Regions from separate parts of the Homo sapiens genome. Here region 2 is linked to region 1. Evidence: fine-mapped expression QTL. Tissue or cell type: whole blood. Region 1 holds a variant in brackets; the other region holds the start of a gene. All regions are shown on one strand. Distances are from middle to middle.

Evidence for each region. PIP is the estimated chance that this variant, and not a neighbour inherited with it, causes the effect.
Region 2: SYCE1 starts here. The variant in region 1 is fine-mapped to the expression of SYCE1 in whole blood (INTERVAL, PIP above 0.99).

Annotation. Positions count from the first base shown.
Region 1 is chr10:133,591,664-133,600,266 of GRCh38, forward strand. No RefSeq gene overlaps it. Among named protein-coding and RNA genes, the nearest start is that of SYCE1, 30 kb to the left of the region's middle. The variant A/C (reference allele first, on the strand shown) is at 6,479.
Region 2 is chr10:133,561,669-133,567,681 of GRCh38, forward strand. It overlaps SYCE1 (synaptonemal complex central element protein 1), which reads right to left and starts at 3,915. Exons shown (of 13, transcript NM_001143764.3): 1 at 3,789-3,915. The coding sequence starts at 3,861. It also overlaps the pseudogene SPRNP1.

The DNA.
Region 1 (8,603 bases):
CTGATTAAACCCTTCTTTCCTGGCAGTCCCCGTTGTCTCACTGACTGGCTTTCTGTGCAGCGAGCAACAGGTCCTAGACCAAACCCTTGGCGTTTTGGTAACATCTTTCTGCAGCACCTCCACAGCTCCAGGGAAAGTGGGTTTAGGGGTTCTCCTGGTGATTACTGACCCAGCGATGCAGACCTCAGCGAAGGGAACAGTGGCTCTGAGAGGGCTCTGGTCTCAAGGGCTCAAGGGAAACCATCCCTGGAGTGGTGGTGACTCCAGGCCTGATACATACCTGCCTGCTGTGTGTGTGTGTGAGTGTGTGAGTGTGCAAGACGTCAGTCCAGAACTAGCTGGACCCAGAATTGGCAAAGGCACCTTTCCTGCCTGGATGCAGTTATTTGCCTCTCAGTTCTGCATTAAATGCTGGAGTTGCTGCTGCCACGCTGGGCTGAGTGAGCCAGCCAGTTTCTTGGTGGCCTTCTCCATGTTCCTGGCACAGTATTAGCCCAGAGCACAGAGACTAGAAATGTGAGCAGTTATTTCTGCCATGACAACGTAAGCCTGATGGAGAGGCCTGGAGGTTGATAAACACTGTTGTTAGTGGGTTTACATTTGGAAGAATCTACTCCGACCCTATACCTTACTGCAAAAAAGGCTCTCGTGAATCAAATGTCTAAATATGAAAAGAAAATATTAGAAAAGTAAGTAGAAAATATAAACTTATGTGGAGGATGATAATTTTCTTAATTTCAGAATTTTGAAAGCCACAAAAATGTCAGCACCTTTGAGGAAAACTCTAAAGATGTTCAGTGATGAAAAAATGTCACAACGAAAGCCAAATAAAAAGAGGATGCCAGAAAAAGCTTGGTTATAGGTGGTACAGGTGCCAGAGGCAGGGGATGTGTGCTCATGACATCTGAGCAGAGGGAGAGAAGGACCCACTCACTCCCACCCGTGCCCATGATACCTTAGCAGAGCGAGAGAAGGACCCAGCTGCTCCCACCCACAGAAACACTGGTCCATGATCAGAAAAGAGAGCCGAGAACAGCATGAAGCCGTGCCATTTGTCTAAAGTGAAGATAAAAACCAACATTAACAAAGTTGTGTTAATAACTTTTTTGAGTATTTAAAAAATATTTTTAAAATTTAGAGTCAGTAAAATTCACTCTTTTTGGTGTCCAGTTGTAGGACTTTTGACACTTGCAGAGTCGTGTAATATTCCCATAATCAAGATGTAGACCAACCTCACCGCCTGCCCCCCACCGCCACGCTGGCAGCCTCAGCTCTGTTCTCCATCCTGGCAGTTTGCCTTTGCCAGAAGTCACATACATGGACTTGTTCTGCGCATAGCCTCTTGAGACTGGCTCCTTTTATGTATTATGGAAAAATCGCCATTAAATGCATGCCCTTTGTTTACTGACTCACCAGTGAAGGACATTTGGAGTGTTTTCAGTTTTTGGTGATTATGGATAAAGCTGTTATAAACATTTGCATACACGTTTCTCTGTGAATGTAAGTTTTCATTTCTCTTGAGGTATGGGATTCTTGGGACATATGGTGGTGGACTTTTAATGTTCGAAGACACTGCCAAGCTGTTTTCCACAGTGGCTGGACAAGTTTTTCATTCCCACCATTAATATATGAGTGTTCTGGTTGTTCTGTGTGCATGTTACCACTTGATATCGTCAGGGTTTTTTTTGTTTTGCATTTGAATAGATGTGTAGTTGTTTTAATTGGCACTTCCCCAAAGGCTAACAATGTTGGACATCTTTTCATGTGTTTATTTGCTGTCTGTGTGTCTTCTTCAGTGAAGTGTCTGTTTAAATTTTTTGCCCATTTTTCTTTTGGGTTTGTTTTCTCATTAAGTGTTGAGGGTTCTTTAGGCAGTCTTTTGTCAGATGTGTAATTTCCAGATGTTTCTCTCTGTGGTTTGCTTTTTTTTTTTTTTTTTTTTTTGAGATGGAGTCTCACTCTGTTGCCCAGGCTGGAGTGCAGTGGCGTGACCTTGGCTCACTGCAACCTCTGCCTCCAGAGTTCAGGTGATTCTCCTGTCTCAGCCTCCTGAATAGCTGGGATTACAGGCGTGTGCCACCGTGCCTGGCTAATTTTTTTGTATTTTTAGTAGAGATGGGGTTTCACCATGTTGGTCAGGCTGGTCTTGAACTCCTGACTTCATGATCTGCCTGCCTCGGCCTCCCAAAGTGCTGGGATTACAGGCATGAGCTACTGCACCCGGCTGGTTTGTCTTTTTATTTACATTGAGAGTTTCCTTTGTAGAACAAAAGTTTTAGATTTTGATAAAGTAAATTTGGATTCATTTTCTTTCCTTTCCTTTTTTTTTTTGTTTTTTTGAGACAGAGTCTCACTTGGTCACCCAGGCTGGAGTGCAATGGTGCGATCTCCACCCACTGCAAACTATGCCTCCCTGGTTCAAGTTATTCTCCTGCCTCAGCCTCCGAGTAGCTGGGATTACAGGCATGTGCCACCACACCCAGCCAATTTTGTATTTTTAGTAGAGATGGGATTTTGCCATGTTGGCCAGGCTGGTCTCGAACTCCTGGTCTCAAGGGATCTGCCCGCCCCAGCCTCCCAAAGTGCTGGGATTACAAGTGTGAGCCACTGTGCCTGGCTGATTTTTTTGATTCATTTTTAATTGTTGCACAGCCTTTTATTCTTGGGATAAATCCCACTTGGTCATAACATATCATTTATTTATTTATTTTAAAATAGATTTATTACAATATAAATTACATACTACAATTTGTCAATTTTTTCTTATGGATTATGTTTTGGTGTCTTACCTAACAAGTGTTTGCCTAATCCATGGTCACAGATATTTCTCTAGTATTTTCTTCTAAAAGTTCAATCATTTTTTTTGTGTGTTAATTTTTGCATAAAATGTGATTTATGAATCAAGTTTTATTTATTTATTTGCATTAACTCCAACACCATTTGTTGAAAAGACTCATTTTTCCAGTGAACCACCTTTGCATCTTAAAGAAAATCAATATACTATAGTTGTGTGGGTCTATTTCTGGACTCTGTATGTTTCATTCACTTACATGTTCATTCATTTACCAATAGATAGGTCTCAGTGCTGCAGTTTTATGGTAAATCTTGAATTCAGGCAGTGGGAGCTCTTTAACTTTGCTATTCTTATTCAAATTTATTTAGAATATCCTAGTTCCTTTGCCATTCCATAGAAATTTTAGAATCAGCTCATTGGTATCTGTGAAAAACCCTACTAGAATTTTGGTTGGGATTACATTATGCCTGCAGATAAGTTTGGGGACAATAAGCATCTTAACTATCTGTGTCTTCCATAGTTGTCCAATCAATGAACCTGGTGTATCTTATTTATTTGGATTTTTAAAATTTATTTTATCAGGGCTTTATAGATTTCCACATACAGATCTTGCACATATCTTGTTAGAGTTATCCCTTAGTAGTTCATTTTTAAGTGCTATTGTAAGTGGCACTTAAAGCAATTGTTCATTGCTAGTATATAGAAATAAAATGGCTTTTTGTGTTTTGATCTTGTATTCTGTGAGCTTGCTGAATTCACTTATTAATTCCAAGAGTTTTTCTGTAGATTCCTTGAGATTTCCTATTTAATTATTTGGTCTGGGAATAAAATGTTTTATTCCTTCCTTTCCAATCTGTAAGTTTTAATTTTTTTCTCTCTCTTTGGTACTGTTTAGGACTTCCATTAAAATTTTGAAAACGAGAGATGAGAGTGGCTATCCTTGCCTTGTTCCTTATTTTAGGTGGGAAGCATTCAATATTCCACCATCAGGTGGGATGTTGGCTGTAGATTTTTGTAGTTGCTCTTTGTCAGATTAAGTTAGTTTCCCTTCTGTTCCTAGGTTGCTGACGGTTTTTTATCATAAGTCAATTGGTGAACTTTGTCAAATGCTTTCCCCACATCTCTTGAGATGGTCACATGGCTTTTCTTTTTTAGAGTGATAGTGTGGTGCATTATATTGATTCAGTTTCAATTGTTGCATGGCCTTTCATTCCTGGGATAATTCCCACTTGGTAGTATTGTATCATCTTGTTTATTTATTAAAAAACAGACTTACTGCAATATAAGTTACATACCATGAAACTCATCCATTTCCAATTCAATGATTTTTAAAGTAAATTTATTGAGTTATGCATCTATTGTCTCAATCCAGTTTTAGAATGTTGCCATCATTCTTGTGTTATTTCTTAAGATACTACTGGACTTGATTTGCTAATATTTTGTCAAAGATTCTTACATCTTTGTTCATCAGGGATAATTTTTGTAATTTTTTTCTTGTAATATTTTTGTCTGGTTTTAGTATTAGAGTAATGATGGCTCATAAAATGAGGTAAGAATTATTGTATCTCTTCATATTTTCTGGACGAGATTGTGTAAAATTGGTATTTCTTAAATATGTGATTAGAATTAACCAGTGAAACAATGTCGGCTGGGAGTTTTTATTTTTGGAGGGATTTTAGCTAAGAATTCAAATTTTGTGATAGCTATAGGACTATTCAGGAAATATGTTTTTTCTTTTGTGACTTTTGGTAGTTTGTGTCTTTTAAGAAATTGGTCTATTTCTTCCAAGTTGTCAAATTTATGGGCGTAGAGTTGTTCCTAGTATTTCCTTATTATCTTTAAGTGTCTATAGACTCTGAAATGATTTCATCTCCTTAATTCCTGATGTTGGTAACTTGTGTTTTCTCTCTTTTTTTTTTTCTGTTCAACATTCTGGCTAAAGGTTTATCCAGTTTATTGATCTTCCTTAAGAACTGATTATCAGTTTCATCAATTTTCTGTATTCTACTGTTTTGAGTTTTGCAGATCTCTCCTCTTATGTTTATTATCTACTTCCTTCTACTTTCTCTTGTTTTTCTAGTTGTTTAAAGGAAGAACTTAAATGATTGATTTGAGAATTTTCTTGTTTTTGAATATAATTATTTTATGCTATGAATTTTCTAATCCTGCTTTATCTGTATCCCACACATTTTGATATGCTGTATTTTCATTTTTACTTAGTTCAAAAGGTTTTCTGATTTCCCCTTATGTTTCACTTTTGACCCATGGATTATTTAGAGGTGAGTGGTTTAATTTTCAAATATTTGAGGGATTCATCGGACATCTTTCTGTTATTAAGTTTAATTCTGATAGGATCAGAGAATACACTTTATACAATTTCTATTTCTAAAAATTTGTTTTTGAACTTCCGTTAAGATTTGTTTTGTGACCTAGAGTATGTTCTATACTGGTGAATGTTTCATATACACTTGAAAGAAAGCATAGTCTGATGTTCTTAATGAATGATTTGACCAAATAAGTCCAATTGAGTGATTGTGTTGGTCAGGTCTTCCATATTCTAGCTGTTTCTCTATATGCTTGTTCTATTGGTTACTGAGGCAGGACTGTTAAATTCTCCAAATATAATTGTGGATTTGAATATTTCTCCTTTGAGTTATTGGATTTTTTTTGTTTTGTTTTGTTTTTTGAGACAGAGTCTTGCTGTGTGGCCCAGGCTGGAGTGCAATGGACCCATCTTGGCTCACTGAAACCTCCACCTCCTGGGTTCAAGTGATTCTCCTGCCTCAGCCTCCTGAGTAGCTGGGATTACAGGCATGCACCACCATGCCCAGCTAATTTTTATATTTTTAGTAGAGACAGGGTTTCACCCTGTTGGCCAGGCTGATATTGAACTTCTAACATCAAACGATCTGCCCACCTTGGCCTCCCAAAGTTCTAGGATTAGAGGCGTGAGCCACTGCGCCCAGCCAGATTTTTTTTTCATGTATTTTTAAACTCTGTTAATGATAGGTGCCTATGCATTTAAGCATTATGATATCTTCTTGGTAAATTGACTTTTTTATTATATGTAATGCCCTCTTTGATCTCTTGTAATATTTTTTATCTCTTTTAATATTTTCTAAGTTCTGCTTTATTTGACTTAATACAGCTAGCCCACATTTTTTATTAGTATCTCATGGTTTATCTTTTTTTATTCTTACATTTCGATGTATGTCATTATACTTAAAGTGGGTGTCTTTAGACAGCATATAGTTGGGTCCTCTGTTTTTTTTAAAAAAGTGTATTTTGGAAGATTGTAGAGTCATTGGAAGTTGCAATGAAATATACAGGGAATACCCAGGCACATTTTACCTATCCTTCTCCAATCTTAGCATCTTGTATAACTATAGTGCAATGGAAAACCAGGAAATCAACATTGATACAATCCATGGAGCTTATTCAGGTTTCGCTATTTATGCATGCATTCTATATGTGGGTATAACTTGTGATTTTTAACATGTATAGCTTCATATAATCAGCATGACAATCAAGTTGTTTAACTATATCATCATCATCAGACCTCTCCTCATGCTACCTCTCTACAGTCACAGCTCCATCACCGCTGCATACCTAATCCAAGGAAACCACTAATATGTTATCCATCTCTGTGATTGTGTTATTTAAAAATGTTATCTAAATGGATTC[A/C]TGAAGTATGCATCCTTTTAAAATTGGCTCTCCCACCCATTCAACATAGTTTCCTTAGGTTCATTCAAATTGTCACATGTATTAACAGTTTATTCCCTTTTATTGCTGAGTAATATTGCATGATGAGGATGTACCACAGTTTATTTACCCCTATGCCCATTGAAGGACATTTAAGGAGTTTCCAGTTTCTGGGCACTGTGCATAAATCTGCTATGTAGAGTTTTTGTATGAAAACAAGTTTTCATTTCATTGGAATAAAAGCTCAATTGTGCAATAGCTGGGTCATAGGGTGAGTCAAGTTTTAGCTTTAAAAAGAACAGCCGAACTATTTTCCGGAGTGAATATGGCTGTACCATTTTGCATTCCCACCAGCAATGAATGAATGACTTAGTGATTCTCAACCTCCTTGTGAGCATTTGATGTTATCACTATTTTTAAAACGTCTTTCTGACAGTTCTGCTGCGATGGTTAATTTCATGTGTCAATTTCACCAGCCCATGGGGTACCAGATACTTGGTGAAACACTATTCTGAGTGTTTCTGTGAGGGTGTTTTTGGATGAGCTTAACATCTAAATTGATAGACTGAGCGAAGCAGATTGCCCTCCCCACTGAAGGTGGGCCTTGTCCAATCAGACAAGTGTCTAAATAGAACAAAAATGGACCCTCTCCCAAATCAGAGGGAATTCCTCCTGCCTGCATTTGAGCTGGGACATTGTTGTTTTCCTGCATTGAGACTTGAACAGAAATATCAGCTCCTCCTGGGTCTTTGGCCTGCTGACCTTCATGTAGAAACCCCACCATTAGCTCACCTGATTTTCAGGCCTGTGGATCAAACCACACCATCAGCTCTCTTGGGTCTTCAGCTTGTCAGTCTCCATAAGTGCATGAGCCAATTCCTTATAATAAATGTTTACACACACACACACACACACACACACACACACCCCTATTGGTTCTGTTTCTCTGGAGAACCCTGACTAATGCAGATTTTGGTACTGACACTGGAGTTCTGCTGTGAAACATACCTAATGATAGGGACCAGCTTTGGAACTGGGCAGTGAGCAGAGGCTGGATGAGTTTTGAGATACTTGGTGGAAAAAGCCTAGATTTCCATGAAGGGACTATTGGTAGGTACATGGACATTAAAGGCAATTCTGGTGAGGGCTCATGAATAAAAGACAAGAGCTATAGAGAAAGCCTCTACCATCTCAGAGAATAACCATATCATCATGAAGAGAATGTTGGAAGCAACATGGACACACTGTTACAGACTACTGGGCGAGATCTCAGGTGGCAAACCCTAACCCTCTCTCTTAGACGGTTTTCTTTTTTTTTTTTTTTGAGACGGAATTTCACTCTTGTTGCTTAAGCTGGAGTGCAATGGCACGATCTTGGCTCACTGCAGTCTCTGCCTCCTGAGAGCAGAGAACACAAATTATTTGGAATTCAAAAGATTTGTCTTTTCTCCCCATTTATTTATATTTATTTGTTCATTCAATCATTTACTTAGATTACATGGCTCACAAATATTTATTTCATATTTTTGGTTATAATCCAGTACTATTTTATTATTTTGTTGCTCAAATTAATTCAATTTTTTGCCACTTGGAAATCTTTCAGTTACCTTTGACATATCCCCATCACTTTTTTTTTTTTTTTTGAGATGGAGTTTCGCTCTTGTTGCCCAGGCTGGAGTGCAATGGTGCGATCTTGGCTCACTGCAATCTCTGCCTCCCAGGTACAAGCGAGCCTGAGATATGGCCTCATGTGAAGGGAAAGACCTTACTGTCCCCCAGCCCAACACCCGTAAAGGGTCTGTGCTGAGGAGGATTAGTAAAAGAGGAAGGCCTCTTTGCGGTTGAGATAAGAGGAAGGCCTCTGTTTCCTGCATGTCCCTGGGAATGGAATGTCTCAGTGTAAAGCCGAACATTCATTCTATTCTGAAATAGGAGAAAACCGCCCTGTGGCTGGAGGTGAGATATGCCAGCGGTGATACTGCTCTGTTACTCTTTGCTACACTGAGATATTTGGATAAAGAGAAACATAAATCTAGCCCATGTGCACATCCGAGCACAGTAGCTTTCCTTGAACTTATTTATGACGCAGATTCCTTTGCTCACATGT
Region 2 (6,013 bases), 31 kb before region 1:
CAACCAGCTGGTCTTAATTTTTCCTTATCATTAGAGTGTCCAGTAACCATACAAGTTGTGTGATCATTTGTTTGTTTTGCTTAACTGGTATTTTTTTTTGTTGTTGTTTCTTTCTGTTTTTGTTGTTTTGGTCCTTTTCCTATTGGGTTTGGCCAATTCTGACTTGATCAAATCCAAAGGAAAGTTCCAAATTATGTGGAACAAGGCCTCTGAAGTGGCTAAATTCCCACCAGAAAAGGGGTGGTGGGGGAAGAAAAAACAGCCAGCAAAAGGAAAAAAGGGGGGGAAGATTTTTGATTTTGACTACTTAAGGGGATTTATTTACATAACAAGGCCACCTTTTTGCTAGCCAGGCCAAACTGAAAGAGAAAGGATTGTCACCCCAACTGCAGTTCCATAGCTAAGGTTCTGTCTTCTTTTTTCCATGACAGCCTGGGTTTGGTTCCTAAATCAAGACCTTTCTGGTTTGATACTTGGTACTTCTGAAATAGCAGATATTTGTCCTAGCTGAAATATGTTGATGAGATCTTAAAAATTTTTTAAAAAGAAACTCAAATGGTTAAAAGTCATCTTAATTAAAAGCTAACATCCAATGTGTGTGTGTGTGTGTGTGTGTGTGTGTGTGTGTGTGTGTGTGTGTGTGTGTGTATTTAAAAGGGCTTCATGATTTTTCTTTTTTCTCTCTCCTAGGACCTTGTGTTTTTTGGGCAAAAGTTTTTTTTCTTTTCAGTTGACTGAATGCTATTTTCTTCATATAGTTCTGCTGTCTCTCCTTTCCCTTGAACGCTCTGCTGCATGAGGGACCTAAAATAGTTTATAATAGCCTGAGGTTCCTTAAAGAAAATGGAGAAGGCACCAGACTCCCTTTTGTGGAGAAAATTGTTTTTCCTTGTGTATCCCCAAGAGTGTAAACACACAAGTTCATGTCAGCTCCTAAACTGTTTGCTTTTGTATTGTGTTACCTGATTTTTTTGTTTATTAATTATTGCAACAGAAGCTACTCCTGCATTTTTAAGGAAGAGTATATTTTAGACACTTAGAAATATTTTTTTAATGTTTTTTAAGTACACTGTAAAAGCATCCATGTGGTCGAGCCTCATAATAATTCTCCCTTTTTGCAGACCCAGGATTCAGTGTGGCCTCTTCCCAGAGCTCAGAGATCCAGTTAAAAGATAGGTAGTCACTATCTAAATAAAATTGGTCTCCTGTGATCCAACCACCTCCCACCAGGCCCCAACTCCAACATTGGGGATTACAATTCAACATATTTGGGTGAGGACACAGATCCAAACCATATCACAGGCCAAGGCCAAGGCCGAGGCACGGTTGAGAAGGCTCAGAGGCACCTGACCAAAGTTTGTAACAGTTTTGATTGACAATACCAAATTACCTTACACTGATGTATACAAGATGCCCAGTTTTTCATTTTTACCAATCACCTATGTTTCCAAACGTGTTTATCTTTGTCAACCAGATATGCAAAATTAAGGTGTCTCCTTACAAACTTTCTGATAGTAAATATCAAAAGTTTGGGTGCATCTTATTTTCTAAGACTATGTCCTAAGTAATTCTGGATATGGCTAATGGGCAAGGTGTTCATCACTGTATTGTTTATAATAGTGAAAAACTCGAAGAAGCCTAAATATGCCTTAGGGGATTTGTTAAATAAATTATAGCACATACACAGGATGAAATCATTTACAGCCATTAAAAATCATGCATACATGCATAAGGCCAGGCTCAGTGGTTCACATCCATAATCCCAGCACTTTTGGGAGACTGAGGCAGGAGGACTGCTCAAGCATAGGAGTTCAAGAGCAGCCTGAGCAATGCAGCAAGACCCTCTCTCTACAAATAAAAAATTTAAAAAAATTATCTGGGCATGGTGACATGTACCTGTGATTCCAGCTACTCAAGAGGCTGAGGTGGGAGAATCTCTTGAGGCCAGGAGGTCAAGGCTGCAGTGAGCAGTGATTGTACCACTGCACTCCAGCCTGGGCAACAAAGCACAATCTCGTCTCAAAAAAAAAAAAAAATCAAGCATAAAATTTTGTGAAATGCTTATTTTTGAGTTTATGGAGTCCCCTCATTTTGGTCCCACCTGAAATCTTACACAAATTACTGCTCATAAATTTTTGCATTAAGTTTTAAATTATTCAAGTAATTGGCATGTGTGAAAAAGTATGAAGAAAAAATTGAAACACCAACATTCCCTTTCCCCAGTCATTCCCCTTTCTAGTAATAACTGCAGCCAGTTAGGTGAAGACTAATAGACTTTTTACTAAAATGTATCTAGTGTCACTGACCCTAGATAACATCCCTGCTTCCTTTTTAAAACAGATAGACTAAAACTGGAATCTTGTCCTTTAAATTTCTTCTGTAGCTGGTCACTATAGAATGTTTGTGCCCCCATCCATAGTTCGTATGTTGAAATCCTAACCCCCTAGTGTGACTGCATTAGGAGGTGGGGCCTTTGGGAGGTGATTAGGTCATGAGAGTAGGGCCCTCAGCAATGGGATTAGTGCCCTTATAAGACCAGAGAGGTCTGCAGCAACTTCCCCAACATGAGGACACAATGAGAAGACAGAAGTCTATAGCCAGGAAGCAGGCCCCCACCAGACGCTGAATTGCACCTTGATCTTGAACTTCTAGCCTCGAAAACTGTGAGAAATAAGGCATTTCTGTTGTAGCAGTTTGAACTAAGGCACAAGCGACATTGGTTAAAACTTACCTAAATATACTAGGTTATGTGAGGAACATGGAGCCATGATACTGAAAGGCTAGCACACCGGCGGGCCAGCAGGTGCTTAATGAAAGGGATACGTTTGCGTCTGTCCTGTTTACTTGCTTTGTCCTTCGCTGGGGCTTTCACTGTGCCACATCTCACTGTAGGGATGCTTTCTGTGCTAAGCTTGTTTCAGTATTCAAACCTTCATTTTGTAAGAACATGACAGAGCACCTGCCATGGCATTCACGCAGGTAGGGCTGGAGGCAGCCACCGACGTTTGTTAATTGCAGAGTTTTAACTCAAGGGGGACAGATGATCTCAGGACAGAATGACAAGCTGAGTGACAGCAGGAGGGACGTCACCGTACAATTCTCTCCACTTTTCTGTAAGTTTGAAAATCCTCACAGAACACCCAGAGGCACACAGTGTCCTGAAGTGGAAACGGCCAGGACAGTGTCCTTTCTCTTTGTTGGGCTGCAATTTCTGGACTTCTGTACAACTCTGACCAGCTGCCTGTCCCCTCCCTTCCCAGGGTGAGGTAGGAGCCACTATGGCAGGTCGGGGTCAGGGAGAAACAAACGGGGGATCTGCGTGGAGTCGGCCTCCCCCGGCTCCCCGGGGCGTCGGGATGCTGGGTGGGGGGCCCCACTGTCAAGAACCAGTTTAGTGCGACTGGGAAATCTGGACACTTGCTGGTTCTAGGGAGAGGAAGGTGGAATTAGGAATTCCCTTGGGATTGGGAGCGTCAGGAAAATATCCTTTTTGTTTTAAGAGGTGTGTATGTAAAGTCTGTGGGACAACGGGAAGGGATGTCTTTTGACTAATTACCTAAACCAAAATTGGAGCAACTATGATAACAGTTCAATGCTTTAAGACAAAGTGGGGGGTGTGCGGGCAAGCACTCCCTCATCTTGGCCGAAATTTTTCTGAAGAAACCCGCTAAGTCTCAATCAGCAGCATCAGGACTGACAGGAAGAAGCAGCCGCCACCCGCGCCCCAACCCTGCCCCGCCTCGGCGAGGTCAGACCCTCACGCACAGTTCCCTGCCTCCCACCACTACCTCCGGCCTTCTCAGCCCTGTCCACGGCTCCTGCGGTGGGCTCGGCCTTCGATGTCAGGGACCTCCCCGCCATTTCCTCTCAGCTCGCCAGCGAGGGTGCCTCGGGAGGGAGCCTCCAGTGGTGATTGGAGCAACCGCCGCTGGGGGCAGGACTCCAGGCAGCGCGCCTGCGCAATGCACTCCTGCGCGCGCCTGGAGATGTGAGGTAATTCTCCGGCAGGCCTGCGTGGCACTAGTGCGCATGCGTAAAGGCGCGAGGGCTACAAACGCGGCGGGAAGCCCGCCAGGGCCACGTGCGGCCGTCCAGGCTTGCGATTGGCCCGCTGCCGGGTGCCCCCGCGCATGTGCGCTGGCTTCCGAGGGGACCGGCCCTGGTTCTGGAGGCCCTCCCCACCAACGAGCAGTACGCATGTGTAGCGCCGAAGCTTCCTGTGAAGTGTGCGTGTCTGACGGATGACGACTCCACAAGGCGCTGTGGCCCTGGCAGCCTCATGAGGTTGCGGCTCTGCGGGACCACACCGCCGCGGGAGTGCACGGGCCCCAGCGAGTGAAATCTGCGGCAGCCCCCGCTGGGCCCGCTGTTCCTGCGCGCGCAGAGGAGCGTAGCCTGCCCCTAGGCCGCGTTCCCGTGAGCTCCATGCCCACAGTGGCCGAGGCCGGCCACAAGCCCACGGTCCCTTCTGCACGGTCCCTGCCGCGCTGGGGCCACCGTGGAGGCCCGGAGGGCCCTGGGAGGAGGGAGGAGGAGCAGAGGCTTTCGGGAGAACCCAGCCCTTCACCGGCCAGGGGAGGCCGCGATGCATCGCGACTGGTTGTGAAGAGCCAGGGGAAGAACTTTACCGTGCAGGTGAGTGGGAGACATCAGAACACCTGCCTGTCCTAAATACGAAGCCTCGAATCCTAACCTATAAAAGGTTACCTTAGGGTTTAGGGTTAGGGCTACAGATTAGAGCTAGGGATTAAGGTTAGAGTTGGGGTTGGGGTTAGGGTTTAGGGGTTAGAAGTTAGTTTTGGGGTTAGGAGTGGGGTTAGAATTAGGGTTTGGGGTTAGTGTTAGGGGTAGGGGAAGGATTGGGGTAGGGTTAGGGTTGGGCTAGGGTCGGGGTAGGGGTAGGGTTTTACGGTTAGGGTCAGGGTTTTAGTGTTGGGGTTAGGGTATTGGGGTTAGGGTTTGGGGGCTAGGGGATTAGGGTCAGGGGTGGGGGTTAGGGTTTGGGATTTGGCTAAGGTTTGTAAGGGTTAGGGTTTTAGGGTAGGGGATAGGGGTTAGGGTTACGTGTTGGGGTTGGGATTAGGGTTAGGGGTTACAGTTTAGGGTAAGGGGTTAGAGTTAAGGGTTAGGGTTAGCATTAGGAGTTACAGTTGGGTTAAGGGTTAGGGGTTAGGCTTAGTGTTGTTAGGGTTAGGGTTAGGGTTAGCATTAGGAGTTACAGTTGGGTTAAGGGTTGCAGGTTAGGCTTAGTGTTGTTAGGGTTAGCTTCAGGGTTCGGTGTCAGGGTTTGGGGTGGGGTAGTGGTAGGTTTAGGGGTAGCGTTGTGTGTTAGGATTTGTGGTTACGGTTCGGGCTAGGGTTTTAGGGGTAGGCATAGGTTCGAGTTTGGGTTTGGGTGTTAGGTTTATGGCTAGCATTAGGGTAGGGGTTAGGTGTAGGAGTAGGGGTTGAGGTTATGAGTTGAGGTTAGGGTTAGGGGTCAGGGGTCCGGTCAAGGGTTGGTGTTGGATTTAGGGATTAGGGCTAGAATTAGGGGTTAGGGTTAGGGGTTTGTGTCGGGGTTGGGTTGGAGGCTTGGGTTCAGGGTCAAGTTTAGGGTTGGGGCTAGGGCTTAGGGTTATGGGTTAGTGTTAGCAGTTAGGGTTAAGGTTTAGGCTTAGGGTTTAGTGCTTGAGGTGGGGGTTAGGTGTTAGGGGTTAGGGTTAAGGGTTAGTGTTTTGCGTTAGTGGTTAGGGTTAAGGGTTATGGTTAAGGGTCAGCGTTAGGGTCAGGGGTTAGGGGTAGGGGTTGTGCTTAGTTTTAGGGTTAGGGTTCCTGGACGGATGGTTTTCCTGCTTGGGAATGTTCCTGGGCTGTGAGATCCACTCTTCTGGGCAGGTGGTTAGCACCTAACGTTTTCCCCTTACTTCCCCCCAAATTCTTAAGTCCTTTGGTCCATTTCATTACTTCTTTTGGGGAGGGCCTGATTCCTCAGGGCCTCAGTGGCAGAACCAGCCTGAGGTCACCTCCCTGT